Regions from separate parts of the Homo sapiens genome. Here regions 1 and 3 are each reported to be linked to region 2. Evidence: microRNA targets listed by miRTarBase, many of them from high-throughput screens and not tested one by one. Region 2 holds a microRNA gene; each other region holds the end of a gene's coding sequence. Distances are from middle to middle.
What was found. Region 2 holds the annotated microRNA hsa-miR-23c (AUCACAUUGCCAGUGAUUACCC, at 1,501-1,522, shown strand). A microRNA usually pairs through its seed, bases 2 to 8, with sites in the 3' UTR of a target mRNA and lowers its output. Matches are read on the target gene's strand: a 7mer-m8 pairs with bases 2 to 8, a 7mer-A1 pairs with bases 2 to 7 and ends in A, and an 8mer does both.

Region 1 (5,061 bases), 99 Mb from region 2:
GCCTGGAAGCCACATGGTATTGCTGAGCTTGGGCCCAGACTTTGATTTGGAGCAGTGGTTCTCAAAGTTTGGTCCCCAAACAGCATCATCAGCATTACCTGGGAATTCTCAGACTCCACCCAAGACCTACGGAATCCGAAAATCTGGGGTGGGGTCAGCAATCTGTGTTTTAACAGGCCCCCCAGGGGCTTCTGATGAACACTAAGGTTTGAGAACCAGTGGTTTCAAGCAACAGAGGAAGAAGCCGAGCACCTCCTGTCGAGCCAGGGTTAATTCACTGGCTCGGGGCTGTTTCAGGTAAACTGAAAGGGACAGCAAGGGATGGGCTGGGGAGGAGACTAGAATTCACAGGGGCTGAGGCCTAGAGAGGAAAAATGCATAAAGGAAAAAGTCGGGTCCAAAAGGATACAAACATGATACCATGCATATGACTTCTAAGAAAACATACAAATGATCACCATAAATTGATTATGGGTACATATAGAGAGACTAAAAGATGTGCTTGTAAGAGATGCATACAAGTGTAGCATACAGAAAGGTGTGCATTCGAAAGAAGCACATTTGAGATGGTGGTTACCTCTCAGGGAAAGAAAGGGAGGGGCATTCTAGCAGAGAAGGCTCCACAGCAGGCATCAACTATATTTGTAATGTTACATTTCTTAAGCTGAATAGTAGATATATTGATGTTTATAGTAACATTTTCTACAATTTTGTGTAGGTCTGAAATATTTCTAAAGCAGGAGGAGGAAGGGGAGCAGTTCTTCCCACACCACTGGGGCAGGACTTACAGGAGTCTGAGAATTCTAGAACCCAACCTGGCCTTTGAGGTCATTATGAAGGTACATTTGTCATGGAAGGAGATAAACCATTAAATAAAACATGCTGTATTCGTTTATTTAAACATTTCAAATATTTAGACATATGGTATGTGGATCCCAAGTTGAACTCTTGTTCTAAACCCTGAAAATGTTACAGGTGAGCCAGGCTCATTATCTGGCCTATAACCCCTTTCCCTTCCTCCCTCCATGCCACTTTGTTACCTGAGCACAGTAGGGCCCCTTGCTTCTGAAAAGCGCTTGTTGCAGTAGCCCATCTTGCTATCGGACTTGGACTTTGTCCCTGACCCAGGCTACAGTGCAACCACCAATCACCTTGTCTCTTCTGCTCGTCCCCCAACCACACCCCCTCTTTATTCTCCAGGTGTCCAAACGTAAAACCTCTTCAGTGGCCCTTCTCCCCCATACCAAATATCAATGCTCACCTGAAAGCCATCAGCTTGGTCAGGCACACCTGCGTGGACGCCCCTTATTCTCAGCACCACCTTTTAAGAACATTTTACTTTGGCCGGGCGCAGTGGCTCACGCCTGTAATCCCAGCACTTTGGGAGGCCGTTAGACGAGCAGATCACAAGGTCAGGAGATTGAGACCATCCTGGCTAACACGGTGAAACCCCATCTCTACTAAAACTACAAAAAAAATTAACCGGGCTTGGTGGCGGGCGCCTGTAGTCCCAGCTACTCGGGAGGCTGAGGCAGGAGAAAGGCGTGAACCTGCGAGTTGGAGCTTGCAGTAAGCCGAGATCGCGCCACTGCACTCCAGCCTGGGCGACAGAGTGAGACTCCGTCTCAAAAAAAAAGAACGTTTTACTTCTCTGACAACCTTCAGCTCTGAGTTGTCAATATCCTATTTGATTTCCCGCCCCATGTCACAGACAGAGATGGACTACAGAATAGGCTTTATTGAATTTATTTGCTTTGCATATATCTTAAATCAAAAAAGTTAAAGAAGTAGAAAAGTTGTCAGAATATGCCTTTAGGCATTTAAAAAGAACTTAATCTCTTCATTTAAAAACAGAACTTTGTTGTTAACTGTGGAAAAGAAATTGTTATTGGAGAGTTCTCAGAGTGAGAATAGCTGAATACAGGTTCACTGTGAAAAAAAGGAAGGGAGGTGTAACAGCTGTGTTGTTAACTGTGGAAAAGAAATTGTTATTGGAGAGTTCTCAGAGTGACAATAACTGAATACAGGTTCACTGTAAAAAAGGGAAGGGAGGTGTAACAGCTAATCTACCAGGAGTACCCAGATAAAGGGCATCTACCTTAATATATTGTTCACTATGGGAATACAAAGGAAATAAAATTCACTCAATCAAAATAGCATTATCAAAATGGCAAAGGCACAGTATCAGGAAAAATAGATGTTATATAGAGAAAATGCAAAATTTAGCATGTAATTGTACTGTGTCACATTATACCAGCATCAACAAAACCCAGCACCAAGTGTTTAGCTCTGACACCTCACTACCTCTCTGGATTTTTTTGCATGGGGCAGCACCCCACTCAGAATATAAAGGCACAGTCAGATGTCCAGGCCTGCATTTCTGTTTAAGCAAAGCAGCACAGTGTAACAGAGGCAGACACAGTGATAACTACTCAGAAGTCACTTCTGGGTCTCCTAGAAAAATGAGCTAGGTTTACTGCCCAGACATCCAAAGGGAGCTCTCCCTTAGTGTTTGGTGGGTTTGGGGGATGGAATGAAGAGAAAGACAGAGAAAGGAAGATTTAACTAACTTCTAGTGAACCTAGATGAGATTCTAGGGTGGTCTGCATCTCAGAAAGCCAGCCAATTAAGGAACTGGCTCTGGGGGTAAAGGTGCCTACATCTTCATCCTCAGCCGAGGAGTTATTAATGGAGGCTGTGCTACAAAAGAAAAAGACCGTGTGGCAAGATGGGAAGGGAGGCATCAACATTTGCTGGGCCACTTGCCCCCTCCCCTCACAGCTGACCATCCCTCTCATCCTCTTTCTCACTCTCCCTTTTTGGTCTTCCCTCTTCTCCGTGGCTGGGGGATGAGTGGGTCACTGGAAGGTAGGGTCTCTCCAGCCTAGTAACTTTTGAGGTGTGTGCCTCTAGGAATGAGAGGGGAAAAGCTGATTTACTCACTTAAAGCTTCCAGGTAGCGGAAAGTTCATTTCTCTGTGGCTTTGGGATTGCACTCTTGCTTTGGGCTAAAACCTTGTGAAGCAAAGACAGCTGAGGGGAAAGGACAAGAAGCTACATGGAGTTCTCCACCTTAATGCTGGAACCAGAGAGGAAGGAGCTCCAGTGGCTCCAGATGTGCATCAAGGCAGTAAGCTTGCCATCTGCCTGATGGAAAGTACAGCTTTTGGCATCTGTAGAACTCTAATTTCAATAGGGTCTTCAGTGCTTAACAGGATATATGTGATAGGCAGTGATTTCTGTGCGATCAGAGAGGGTCACAGTAGTATTGGGACAAGAAGCAAAACATTGATGGACTAACCCTCCAGAGGAGTAAGATAATTCCCAAGAAGCATTCTGCGTCATAGGGAGGTGCTCGCTACAGCCAGGCCTGTGACAGGTCGACGTGGGGTATGTCCAAAGAGGGAGCTTTGTGTAAGTGCTCTGCATGTTACTATCACCCAAGGAGAAAGCATCAGGGGCCCCCAGGGACACAGGGAAGATGTTTCAAGGGGTGATAGGCTGATTGGAGAACTGGCTGTGCAGAAATTTTCTTGGAGACCCAGAATTTTCACTTCCACCGCCTCTTTTAGGATCCCTTGCAAAGCTTAGAGCAACAACCAAATAATTGCGGCATCTATCTAGGCTCATAAAACCTAAAGGCCAATCTTTAGGTCAAATCATCTGAATGTTTCCATTAGAATTACTTTATTTGGTTGAGGGAAATGACAATTTTCTAGTTGCTCCAACAAAATGTTTTTGCTTTCTCCCTTCTAAAGCACATTGTCCAAAGTTAAAGATTTTGCAATTTTACAGCAGTGCAAATGTTTTCGATAGTTTTAATAGAGGAAATGCTGGGTTTCTGGGTGCTGGCAGTGACTACGTGGAAGGTTAAGCATTCATGGCATTTATTTCATTCAAATAATTATGTTTTAATTTGCATTTCTAAGGCTATTTTGCTTAATAAATTCTTATTTTGCTTAATAAATTCTTAGTTTGCTTAATACTTATTTTGCTTAATACAAGTGGTCACAGTAAAAAGATCACTACATAGAATTAATACAGCTATTAGCAATTATCATTTAAAACGCTGATGCTTGGCCGGGCGCGGTGGCTCACGCCTGTAATCCCAGCTTTTGGGAGGCTGAGGCGGGCGGATCACGAGGTCAGGAGATCAAGACCATCCTGGCCAACATGGTGAAACCCCGTCTCTACTAAAAATACGAAAACAAAATTAGCCGGGCGTGATGGCGGGCGCCTGTAGTCCCAGCTAGTCGGGAGACTGAGGCGGGAGAGTGGCGTGAACCCGGGAGGCGGAGCTTGCAGTGAGCGGAGATCGCGCCACTGCACTCCAATCTGGGTAACAGAGCGAGACTCTGTCTCAAAAAAAAAAAAAAAAAAAAAAACTAAATAAAATAAATGCTGATGCTCCACACAAGAGCTCTTTATTGCGTGATTTCTGCCATGTGGCTCCATGCTTTGGCTTTCTTCCTGGCCAGTGAGAACCAGACAGGCTCAATTGGCTCAACTGGGTTCTGGAACTTGGCTGGGAGAGTTGAAGATCGTTTGGTTTCTTTTTCCATGGCAGGAACTTGCAGTATCTTCTGAGCTTCAAATCCAACTGGAACCACAGCAAATAACACACAAGCAATAAGGAACCCCAGCGATATTGGGGTATGTTGTTTATGGAATGCCATATAATGTTTCCTCCTTTCAGGTTTCCTCTGATCCCCCTGCTCTAGTGCTTTCTAAACTCTTCTCCCTTTGGTGCCAGACTTCTAAAAGTTAGGACCTGTGTGATGCCATGGGTAGTATGTCAAAGGGGTAAAATCAACTTGGCTATGGCCACAGGGCCCTGGGCATGGGAAGGCCTGGGAGGTAATACCTATGGCTGTAACTGCCAATCTTCAGGTGGTTATTACTGGATTGTCTTACATCTTTGAACTGAGACCAGAGGGAAACATATTGTATCTACTTAGTTTCTAAAATTTCAGATAAGGTAATGTTATTTGTGTTTGCCAATCCACGATTTCATGTGAAATGAATTGATTGATGACTTAATAGATGCACCCAGTAAAAGTT
Region 2 (5,074 bases):
AAAACTACAAAAATTAGCTGGGCATAGCGGCGCATGCCTGTAGTCCCGGCTACTTGGGAGGCTGAGGCACAAGAATCACTTGAACCCAGGAGGCAGAGGTTGTAGTGAGCCAAGATCACACCACTGTACTCCAGCCTGGGCAACAGAGTGAGACTCCATCTCAAAAAAAAAAAAAAAAAAAAGGACAAGATTTCCCTGGAGGTGCTATGGAAAGGACAAGCGGGGTCTCATGGGCTTGTGGGGATTTATATTTTGGGTGATAATGAGGATTATGGAGGTTCAGGGGCCATAAGGATGTTCTTACATGTGTGCATCTGGGCACTTCTGAAGTCCTGATGGTAAAAAACAAGAAACAGAGGCCAAGTGCAGCGGCTCATGCCTATAATCCTAGCACTTTGGGAGGCCGAGGCAGGCAGATCACCTGAGGTCAGGAGTTTGAGACCAGCCTGACCAACATGGTGAAACCCCGTCTCTACTAAAAATACAAAATTAGCCAGACATGGTGGCGCATACCTGTAATCCCAGCTAGTTGGGAGGCTGAGGCAGGAGAATCACTTGCACCTGGGAGGCAGAGGTTGTGGTGAGCCAAGGTTGCACCATTGCACTCCAACCTGGGCAACAACAGTGAAACGCCATCAAAAAAAAAAAAAAAAAAAAGAGAATGGATTTTCAGGTCCTGGAGATGAAGACGGCAGGTCCTTTATGAAGTAGCTTATACATTAATTAATACACAATGTATCCTTTGTGTGTTAACTTCTCTGGGACAATCATAATTGGCTCGTTAATAAAGGGTAAGAAATGAAATGGTACTTCAGTTAACCTTTAGATACATCTTGTTATTAACACATCCATTTTGGATAATCCTGTGTTGGACATAGTATTTCATTGAGGAATCTAAGAAAATGGGAGCTTCTTTCTGATAGGTTCTATAATGCTCCTCTCCAGAATATCTGTTAATAATTTGAGTTGTTTCACAATGGTTTATAGGCATTGTGACCTAATTTAGTGTTATCACGTATTGTTACAGTCTCAGGCTAATATATTTAAGTATTTGTTTATCTTTCTTTTAAAATATTTCTTTGAATGAATAAACAAAATATTTCCTTTGGTCATACATAGGCTGTTAGCCTGCACAAGTTCTGAAGCTGACCATTAGGATGGATGGATGCTCTTTTTAAGTCTTGACCTTTTTATAACAACAGCATCCCAGTAAGTCATTGGCACATGCTTCCAAATGAAGGTAATTTCTAAAGGACATACAGATTTATAGGTGCACTTTAAAGGACATTGGGGCTTGGAGAGAGGATTCATTTTAAATTGTAAAACAAACTAACGTTTGAGAACCTTCTAGGGCCAGGCATTTTCATTCTCACAGTAAAGCCATAGAACAATAGTATAGCTTTTCCCATTTTTTAAATGGGCATCAAGAACATTGAGTGACTTTCCAGGTGTCACACAGTGAGTGGCATAATCAGAGTACAATTTGAGTCATGCCCATACATCACATTGCCAGTGATTACCCAAGGAAAGTGACGTACATGTGAGGAGGAGGAACATTAGAAAGGTTAAAACAAGCTCTTGGACTTTACAGGATTTTCCCTTACTGCTTCGAGCTCTTTACCATTACACCATGAACCATTCATCTGACTGTGGATGAAAATGTCTAAATGCCACTTAATTTTCATATAGCAAAGAAAGCTAAAATAGATTTCTAAAGATTGCCAAAATAAATGGAAATAGAGGTTTTAATTTATTAAATGTCAAGTTTCTGTTGAGCATTTTCTTCCATTTGCTGCTTCATAAGTCACATACCAATTAGAACCAAATTGGTATGACTTTTTGAGTTCGTAGTCACTGCTCTTAAATTGCTGACTGGCACATTTGTGGCCATTGAGACACTTCCCATTTTTCCTAGCTTTCATTGGTTTTAAATATTCTGCTTAGGTTTTAAAAGAATTGTCATTCAATAAGAATGATGGCTTGGCTTTCTGTCACCGTGGTCATTTGTTCATTGACTGAGGAGCATCTGTTTTCAATACAGTATGCGTTACACATCAACACATCATTCATTGCTGTATTACAGAATTTAAAGTCAAGCCTGGTTAATACTTTTTGGTAAATATATGGACCAGAGTGGATTTCCAGGAAGGATGAATCATGTTATTAAATGAATGCTCGTTGAAAGGTATGTGTGTGTGTTACCATGTGGAGCATTATTCTCGGCTGTCAGCACACAGTTCTCTGGCAGTTTGCTTTTCGAGCATGTCATCTTCTAACAACAGTTGTATTCTCAAAAGGCTGGAGAGAGAGGAATTGAAAAGAAAGGCAGAGGAGGAAAGGCTTCGCCTAGAAGAGGAAGCCCGAAAGCAGGAAGAAGAAAGGAAGCGGCAGGAAGAGGAAAAGAAAAAACAGGAAGGGGAAGAGAAAAGAAAGGCAGGCGAGGAGGCCAAGCGGAAGGCTGAGGAGGAGCTGTTGTTGAAAGAAAAGCAAGAACAAGAAAAACAAGAGAAAGCCATGATTGAAAAGCAGGTACTGTATGAGTCCTCAGATGGACTTTACTTGTTTTTTAAGGACCTTGATAGTAGGTACAATTAGTTAAATTTCAATGACTCATAATGTTTACTTGAAGTTTCTTCTTAAACTGTCTGGGCTGGTTATTAAATATAAGTTGGGGCAGTTGCAGTGAAGTTGGTAATGTTTGCCATCTGTGAGTTAGGGTTTCCCCAAAGGCAAACCCTGGGCTAAGAATTTGAGTGCCAGCAGTTTTTTTTGCAAGCGAATCCCAGGAAGCTGGTAGAGGAATAGGAGAAAAGCCAATGTAAGTGCATTGATGCATGTGTTACTGTGGGTGACTGGAACACAGTCCCATTGGGAACCTCTGACAGACTGTGGATCATGCTTTAGAATTGTCCAGCTGAGGGATGAGGAAACTGAACTACTTATCTACCACATCCTGCCCTTCACGGTAGTAGAAGGTCACTCCCTGGGGAATTAACTCTCTGATCTGGCCACATGCACACTTCATGGCCCAAGCCTGCCCACAGACACAGAAAAGCCTTGGCCATGTGTGAGAACTGTCTGCAGGTGATTTGCATGGTGAGCCAGGGGTATATGAATGAGGTCCAACCATGTTTGCTGTGTCATGCAGTGGTTTGTATAAATCCACATTGAATATTGGAGCAGCATCCACTTTAGGGCAGATGATGAGATGAAGGAACATGTGCAAAGCCAGGGAATTACCACACTGTTTTCTTAGCTTATTAAAGCTTTGCCTTGATTTACCTGTTTCTGTTAGAAAGAAGCAGCAGAAACAAAGGCCCGGGAGGTAGCTGAACAGATGCGTCTCGAGAGAGAACAGATTATGCTGCAGATTGAGCAGGAGAGACTGGAGAGAAAGAAGGTAAGGGCTGAGGGTCAGGAAGACCTAGGGTAAGTGAACAGGAAGTAAATCCAGTTCTCTTCTGCAGTGATTGGATAGAATGATCCTAGGATTGTCAGTTAGGTCAAGTTCATTGATACCACTGTTCAAATCTTTTATGTCTTTATTAGTTTTTTGCCATCTCGTTCCATCAGTGATTGAGAAAGATTGTTAAAAACTCCATCTGTAGCGAGGCATGGTGGCTCACACCTGTAATCCCAGCATTTAGGGAGGCAGAGGCGGGAGGATCACTTGAGCCCAGAAGTTCCAGACCAGCTTGAGTAATACAGTGAAACCCTGTCTCTACTAAAAATACAAAAAATAGCTGGGTGTGATGGCATGTGTCTGTAGTCCCAGCTACGTAGGAGGTTGAGGTGGGAAGATGACCTGAACTCGGGAAGTTAAGCCTGCAGTGAGCCGAGATCATGCCACTGCAGTCCAGCCTGGGGAACAGGAGTGAGACCCTGTCCCAAATAATAGAAAAAAGAATAACTCCATCTGTGATTATGGATTTGTCCATTTTTCCTTTCAGTTCTGTCAGGTTTTGTTTTATATATATTTATCGTGATATGCCTTTGTCTCTAGTGATATTTCTTGTCTTAAAGTCTACTTTGACAGCCCCCTGCCTTTTATTTTTTTGAGACAGTCTCACTCTATTGCCCATGCTGGAGTGCAGTGGTGTGATCTCGGCTCACCACAACCTCCACCTCCCAGGTTCAAGCGATTCTCCTGCCTCAGCCTCCCAACTAGCTGGGATTACAGGCGCACACCACCACACCTGGCTAATTTTTGTATTTTTAGTAGAGATGGGATTTCACCATGTTGGCCAGGCTGGTCTCGAACTCCTGGACTCAAGGGATCCTCCTGCCTCGGCCTTCCAAAGTGCTGGGATTATAGACGTGAGCCACTGTGCTTGGCCTGACAGCCCTTTTATGATTAGTGTCTGTATGTCAAATCTTTTTCACCCTTCTACTTAAAACTTCTTCTGTGTGTTTTTATAAGTAAAGAGCATATAGCCAGGAATTGTTATTTTAATTCTGTTTGACAGTCTTTGTCTTTTAATTGGAGTGTTTAGTCCATTTACACTAACTATACTTATGGGTAAAATTGGGTTTAAGCAGACTGATTATAAAGGAGTATTCTCATGGTGTCCTAGGCCCAACCTGGGCTTTGTATTGCTGTAGGCCTGGGATCCAGGAGACCAGCCTGTGGCCTTCTCTCCTGAGATGCACCTCAGCCTCAGCCTCACTTTCTGTAGGGTGGTGCTCTTTAATGGCAGGTGGTAATTTGTTGATTTATACAGAGCCTAAGGAGAAGAAGGAGAAATATGGGATATAAATCGAATATTGATTCTAGATACGTACTAGTTAACTTCTCAAGCATTTGACCTTGTCCATGGGGCCGGAGGTGTACATCTCCAAAACTAGTGGAAAACCTTTCTATACTTGTTATCCTCTTCTGACTTTTGCCTTTTACAAGTTTTCTGAGAAATGTGACATTGCATGTAAACCAAGCTACTTTTATGTTTTTGGTCTTATTGTCCTCTTACTTGATTTTGTTTTTTGTTTTTTGTTTTTAGAGAATAGATGAAATCATGAAGAGAACAAGGAAAAGTGATGTGTCTCCACAAGTGAAGGTAGGAATTCAAATGACCAT
Region 3 (5,061 bases), not on the chromosome of region 2:
ATCTTTCCAAAACTGACATCAATTTTTTAATTTAAGGTCTCAAATTATAATAATATATCTTGGCTAACTCATAATATTTATTGTTTCTGCCCTCTTAGGGGGTATTTGTTCTGCTTTATCCTTAATCTTTTTATTCTAAACTGCATTAAATACTATTCATCATGTTATAAACTGCCTGAAGTTTTCATAGGATATTTTTTGCTTTTTCCATCAATTTGGGCTATGCTTTTTATCTTGAAGGGGGATTAAAAAATGTTCTGTGACCTCAAAAGTGACCAGTAATAAAGCACAAAATAACTATTTAGGGGTGACATAGTGATTCTCAAGCCTTTCATCCTTTAATAATTGAAATTTAGCTGAAAGTGTAGATGTCAGCAGAGTATGTGAGGAACAGTAGATTATTTCTCACAATGGACATGACTCCATTTAAGCTTTTCATTCATAGTTTGCTAATGAATATGCACTACCATGGCCGTAAGTGTCACTTAAAACCATCTTTTTTTCTATTGTAGGTTGATGCTCACCTTAAGAGTGAGCAAACAGAAGCAAGCACCAGGCAAAATTCCCAAGTACTGCTATCAGAAACTGGAATTTATGATAATGACCCTGACCTTTGTTTCAGGATGCAGGAAGGGTCTGAAGTTTATTCTAATCCATGCCTGGAAGAAAACAAACCAGGCATTGTTTATGCTTCCCTGAACCATTCTGTCATTGGACCGAACTCAAGACTGGCAAGAAATGTAAAAGAAGCACCAACAGAATATGCATCCATATGTGTGAGGAGTTAAGTCTGTTTCTGACTCCAACAGGGACCATTGAATGATCAGCATGTTGACATCATTGTCTGGGCTCAACAGGATGTCAAATAATATTTCTCAATTTGAGAATTTTTACTTTAGAAATGTTCATGTTAGTGCTTGGGTCTTAAGGGTCCATAGGATAAATGATTAAAATTTCTCTCAGAAACTTATTTGGGAGCTTTTTATATTATAGCCTTGAATAACAAAATCTCTCCAAAACTGGTTGACATCATGAGTAGCAGAATAGTAGAACGTTTAAACTTAGCTACATTTTACCCAATATACAAACTCGATCTTGCCTTTGAAGCTATTGGAAAGACTTGTAGGGAAAAGAGGTTTGTGTTACCTGCATCAGTTCACTACACACTCTTGAAAACAAAATGTCCCAATTTGACTAACCAACCATAAATACAGTAATGATTGTATATTTCAAGTCAGTCTTCCAAAATAAGAAATTTTTGCTGTGTCAGTCTAAGAATGGTGTTTCTTAAATGCAAAGGAGAAATCATTTTAGGCTTGATGTAAGAAAATGAAAATAATAAATGGTGCAATAAAAATATAGAATATACCAATTGGATATAGGGTAGATGTTCCACATACCTGGCAAACAAATGCTTATATCTACTCTGTTAGATTGATAAGCAAATATAGGTATTAATGGAGCAGTCAACGTATAGCACATTTATGAGGAAAGTAGAGACTCACTGGGTCACATAGACTAATGGATAGGAATGTGACATAATGCTGCTGAATTAATATACTTATGGGCATCTGAATAGTTTAAAAGTTAGTCAGAATAGGTATCACTGGGCAAGTGAAGATAGCTTAAACTGCTTCATGCTTGACTTGATAGCAAGTTAAAGTGCAATTAATGGAATGGAGGAAAACCCAGAATATTTAATTGGTCTGTAGGGGTCAATTTGCTTTCATTCACCACATCTGCATCTTGCTGTTCTTCTTACTAAGGAATCAGGGCAAATCATCTGTAGTGACATATTTTAGTTTGCTAATCATTTATTTTAAAATACTGAGGTTGCAGCCACTTAAGAGTATAGCAAAAGATGGATTCAGATTTTTGGACTTTCCAAAGTACTTGAGTTAAACTATTTCAAAAATAGCCTATAATTTTATTCAACAGTTTGAGGCTATTCGAATTCTCAGGTGCTGCTACTGAATAATGTAATAGTCTTCATACAAAGTGGATAGCAAAGGTTAAAATCCATTTCAACAAATATGTGAGCTGAGCTGCTGCACAAAGGAATGTGATGTGTGTGTGTGTGTGTGTGTGTGTGTGTGTTAGGTGGGGTGGGTGACAACAGAAATGGTGCACGAGAAACTGATCAAATTGACATTATATTTTCAGTTTGCTTATGAAGCTCAAAATACTAGAGTAAATGGGTCATTAAAGAAAATAATATGTGAAATTATGGAGTTTAGAATACAAGTGGGGTATATATACAAAAAGACAAAACTGAGGTTTTGTGGTGGAGAGATTTTCTTAAGTAACACTGGCATTAAGTTTTAGCTCCTTAGATTTGGGGGTGCAAATATTCTTTTGAGTCACTGTTATTTTGCCAATTACACCTAGAATTTCAAGCAACCAATTCGAGATAGGCTGTTTTAGCCAGGCTGCATTTGTGGACAACTTATGTAAGAAAGACATGTTAGAATAGCTGCTTGTGGTATTCTTAAAAATAGAAACAGGAAATATGGGGAGGATACATTTAGCTGTCCTCTTATCAGATGAACACACGAAATTGAACAGTTCCTTCATGATTCTCTCAAACTTAAAAGCAAAATATTTCTGTCTTATTTAAAATATCCTTAGTATGTCTTATAGTAAAGATAATGCTGATAATGATTTCATCTCTAAGATGTATTAATATATTTGTACTGTTTGCCAAAATCACAAATCATTTATGTTTTTATTCCTTTTCAAAATGGTGTCAGAGACATACATGCATTTTCCCAAATGACTCTACTTCACTATTATTTACATGGCTTATTTCATTAGTTTATAGAGGGTTTGAGAAAAAGAATATGTAGATAATTTAATGGTTTTTCACAAATTTTAAGCTTGTGATTGTGCTCAATGAGAAGGTAAAGTTATTAAAACTTATTTGAAATCAATTTGGCATCTGATTTTGTACCCCAAAATGTGTGGACATGAATAGAATACTGATTCTTAAACCCCCTGACACATAAAAGCGACCCGAATAACTTGCTAAACTGCAGACTATTAACTTGCAGCACTAAGAAATTCTGATTCAGGAGGTCTAGAAAATGGCTCTTTAATCATCATCTTTAAAAGACATGCCAACCAATTTTAATATGTTTCCCAGTGTCCACAATTTGAGAAAACTAGTAGAGGCTAGGTTTGGTATATGTGGTTTATTTGATCAGTTTTGTGCACCAACCAAAACTATCTAGTCCCCAGAATGAATTCTCTGGCGCGATCATATCTATTTTGCTAAATATATAAACTTTTTTCAGAGCACTTTTAGGTTCAGCAAAGCTAAGCGGTGAGCATTGAGAGTTTCTATACCGTCTTCCCCCACACATGCACAGTTTCTCCCATCATCAACATCCTGTACTTCAGTGGTGCCTTTGTTACAATCAGTAACTAGAATTGACATGTCATTATCAACCAAAGTTCATGGGTTACATGAGGGTTCACACTTGCAGTTCTTTGGGTTTTGACATGTATAATGACTTGTATCCACCATTATAGTGATTTACAGAATAGTTTCACTGTCCTAAAAATCCTCTGTGCTCTACTCATTTATCACTCCCTCCAAGCCCCTGACAACCACTGCCTCTATTGCTTTGCCTTTTCCAGAGTGCCGTACAGTTGGCATCATGCCCCATGTAGCCTTTTCAGATTTGCTTCTTTCACTTAGTAATATGCATTTAAGTTTCCCCCATGTCTTATCATGGCTTGATAGTTCATTTCTTTTTAATGGTGAATAATATTCCACTGTCAGAATGTACCACAGTTTATCTGTTCATCTACTGAAGGACATTTTTGTTGCTTCCAAGTTTTGACAATTATGAATAAAACTGCTCTAAACATTTGTGTGCAGGGTTTTAGAAAAACTTCAATTTGAAATTCAGGGGTACATGGGCAGATTTGTTATACAGGTAAACCAGTGTCATGGAAAGTTTGTTGTATAGATTATTTTATCACCCAAGTATTAAGCCTATTAGTACCCATTAGTTATTTTATCTGATCTTCTCCCTCCTCCCACTCTCCACCCTCTAGTGGGCCTTAATGTCTGTTGTTCCCCTCTATATTTCCATGTGTTCTCATCATTTAGCTCCCACTTATTTTTTTTTTAATTTTTTATTTTTTTTTTTGAGACGGAGTCTCGCTCTGTCCCCCAGGCTGGAGTGCAGTGGCGTGATCTCGGCTCACTGCAAGCTCTGCCTCCCGGGTTCACGCCATTCTCCTGCCTCAGCCTCCCGAGTAGCTGGGACTACAGGCACCCGCCACCACGCTTGGCTAATTTTCTAATTTTTTTTTGTATTTTTTAGTAGAGACGGGGTTTCACCCTGTTAGCCAGGATGGTCTCGATCTCCTGACCTTGTGATCCGCCCACCTTGGCCTCCCAAAGTGCTGGGATTACAGGCTTGAGCCACTGCGCCCGGCCATTTAGCTCCCACTTATAAGTGAGAACATGCAATAGTCTTTAGTTTGCTAAGGGTAATGGCTTCTAGTTCCATCGATGTTCCTGAAAAGGACATGATCTCATTCTTTTTCATGGCTGCATAGTGTTTCATGGTGTATATGTACCACATTTTCTTTATCCAGTCTTCCATTAATGGACATTTGGTTGATTCCATGCTTTGCTATTGTGAGTAGTGCTACAGTGAACATAAGCATGTATTTGTCTTTAAAACAGAACAATTTATATTCCTTTGGATATATACCCAGTAATGGGATTGCTGGGTCAAATGGTAGTTCTGTTTTCAGCTCTTTGAGGAATTGCCACACTGCTTTCCACAATGGTTAAACTAATTTACACTCTCACCAACAGTGTATAAGTGTTCCCTTTTCTTCGCAACCTCACCAGTGTCTTATTTTTTGACTTTTTAATAGTAGCCATTCTGACAGGTGTGAGACAGCATTGTTATGGTTATGACTCACATTTCAATTTTCAACTCCTTTGGGTAAATACCAAGGAGGATGATGGCTGGATTGTATGGTAAGAGTATGTTGAGTTTTGTAAGAAATTGTCAAAATATCTTCCAAAGTAACTGT

Region 1: the mRNA of KIAA1210 is a reported target of hsa-miR-23c. Seed matches in the 3' UTR shown: 7mer-m8 at 2,244-2,250.
Region 3: miRTarBase lists BTLA as a target of hsa-miR-23c. Seed matches in the 3' UTR shown: 7mer-m8 at 1,531-1,537, 7mer-m8 at 2,060-2,066 and 7mer-A1 at 2,217-2,223.

What each region holds. Positions count from the first base shown.
Region 1 is chrX:119,076,905-119,081,965 of GRCh38, forward strand. KIAA1210 reads right to left here. Exons shown (of 12, transcript NM_001394962.1): 12 at 1,731-4,600. The coding sequence ends at 4,425. Among named protein-coding and RNA genes, the nearest start is that of CT47C1, 6.4 kb to the left of the region's middle.
Region 2 is chrX:20,013,549-20,018,622 of GRCh38, reverse strand. MIR23C (microRNA 23c) reads left to right here and starts at 1,436; the gene lies at 1,436-1,535. It overlaps MAP7D2 (MAP7 domain containing 2), which reads left to right. Exons shown (of 17, transcript NM_001168465.2): 11 at 2,298-2,529; 12 at 3,296-3,400; 13 at 4,998-5,054.
Region 3 is chr3:112,461,835-112,466,895 of GRCh38, reverse strand. It overlaps BTLA (B and T lymphocyte associated), which reads left to right. Exons shown (of 5, transcript NM_181780.4): 5 at 513-2,930. The coding sequence ends at 788. Among named protein-coding and RNA genes, the nearest start is that of BTLA, 35 kb to the left of the region's middle. RefSeq lists enhancers at 289-804, 3,242-3,381.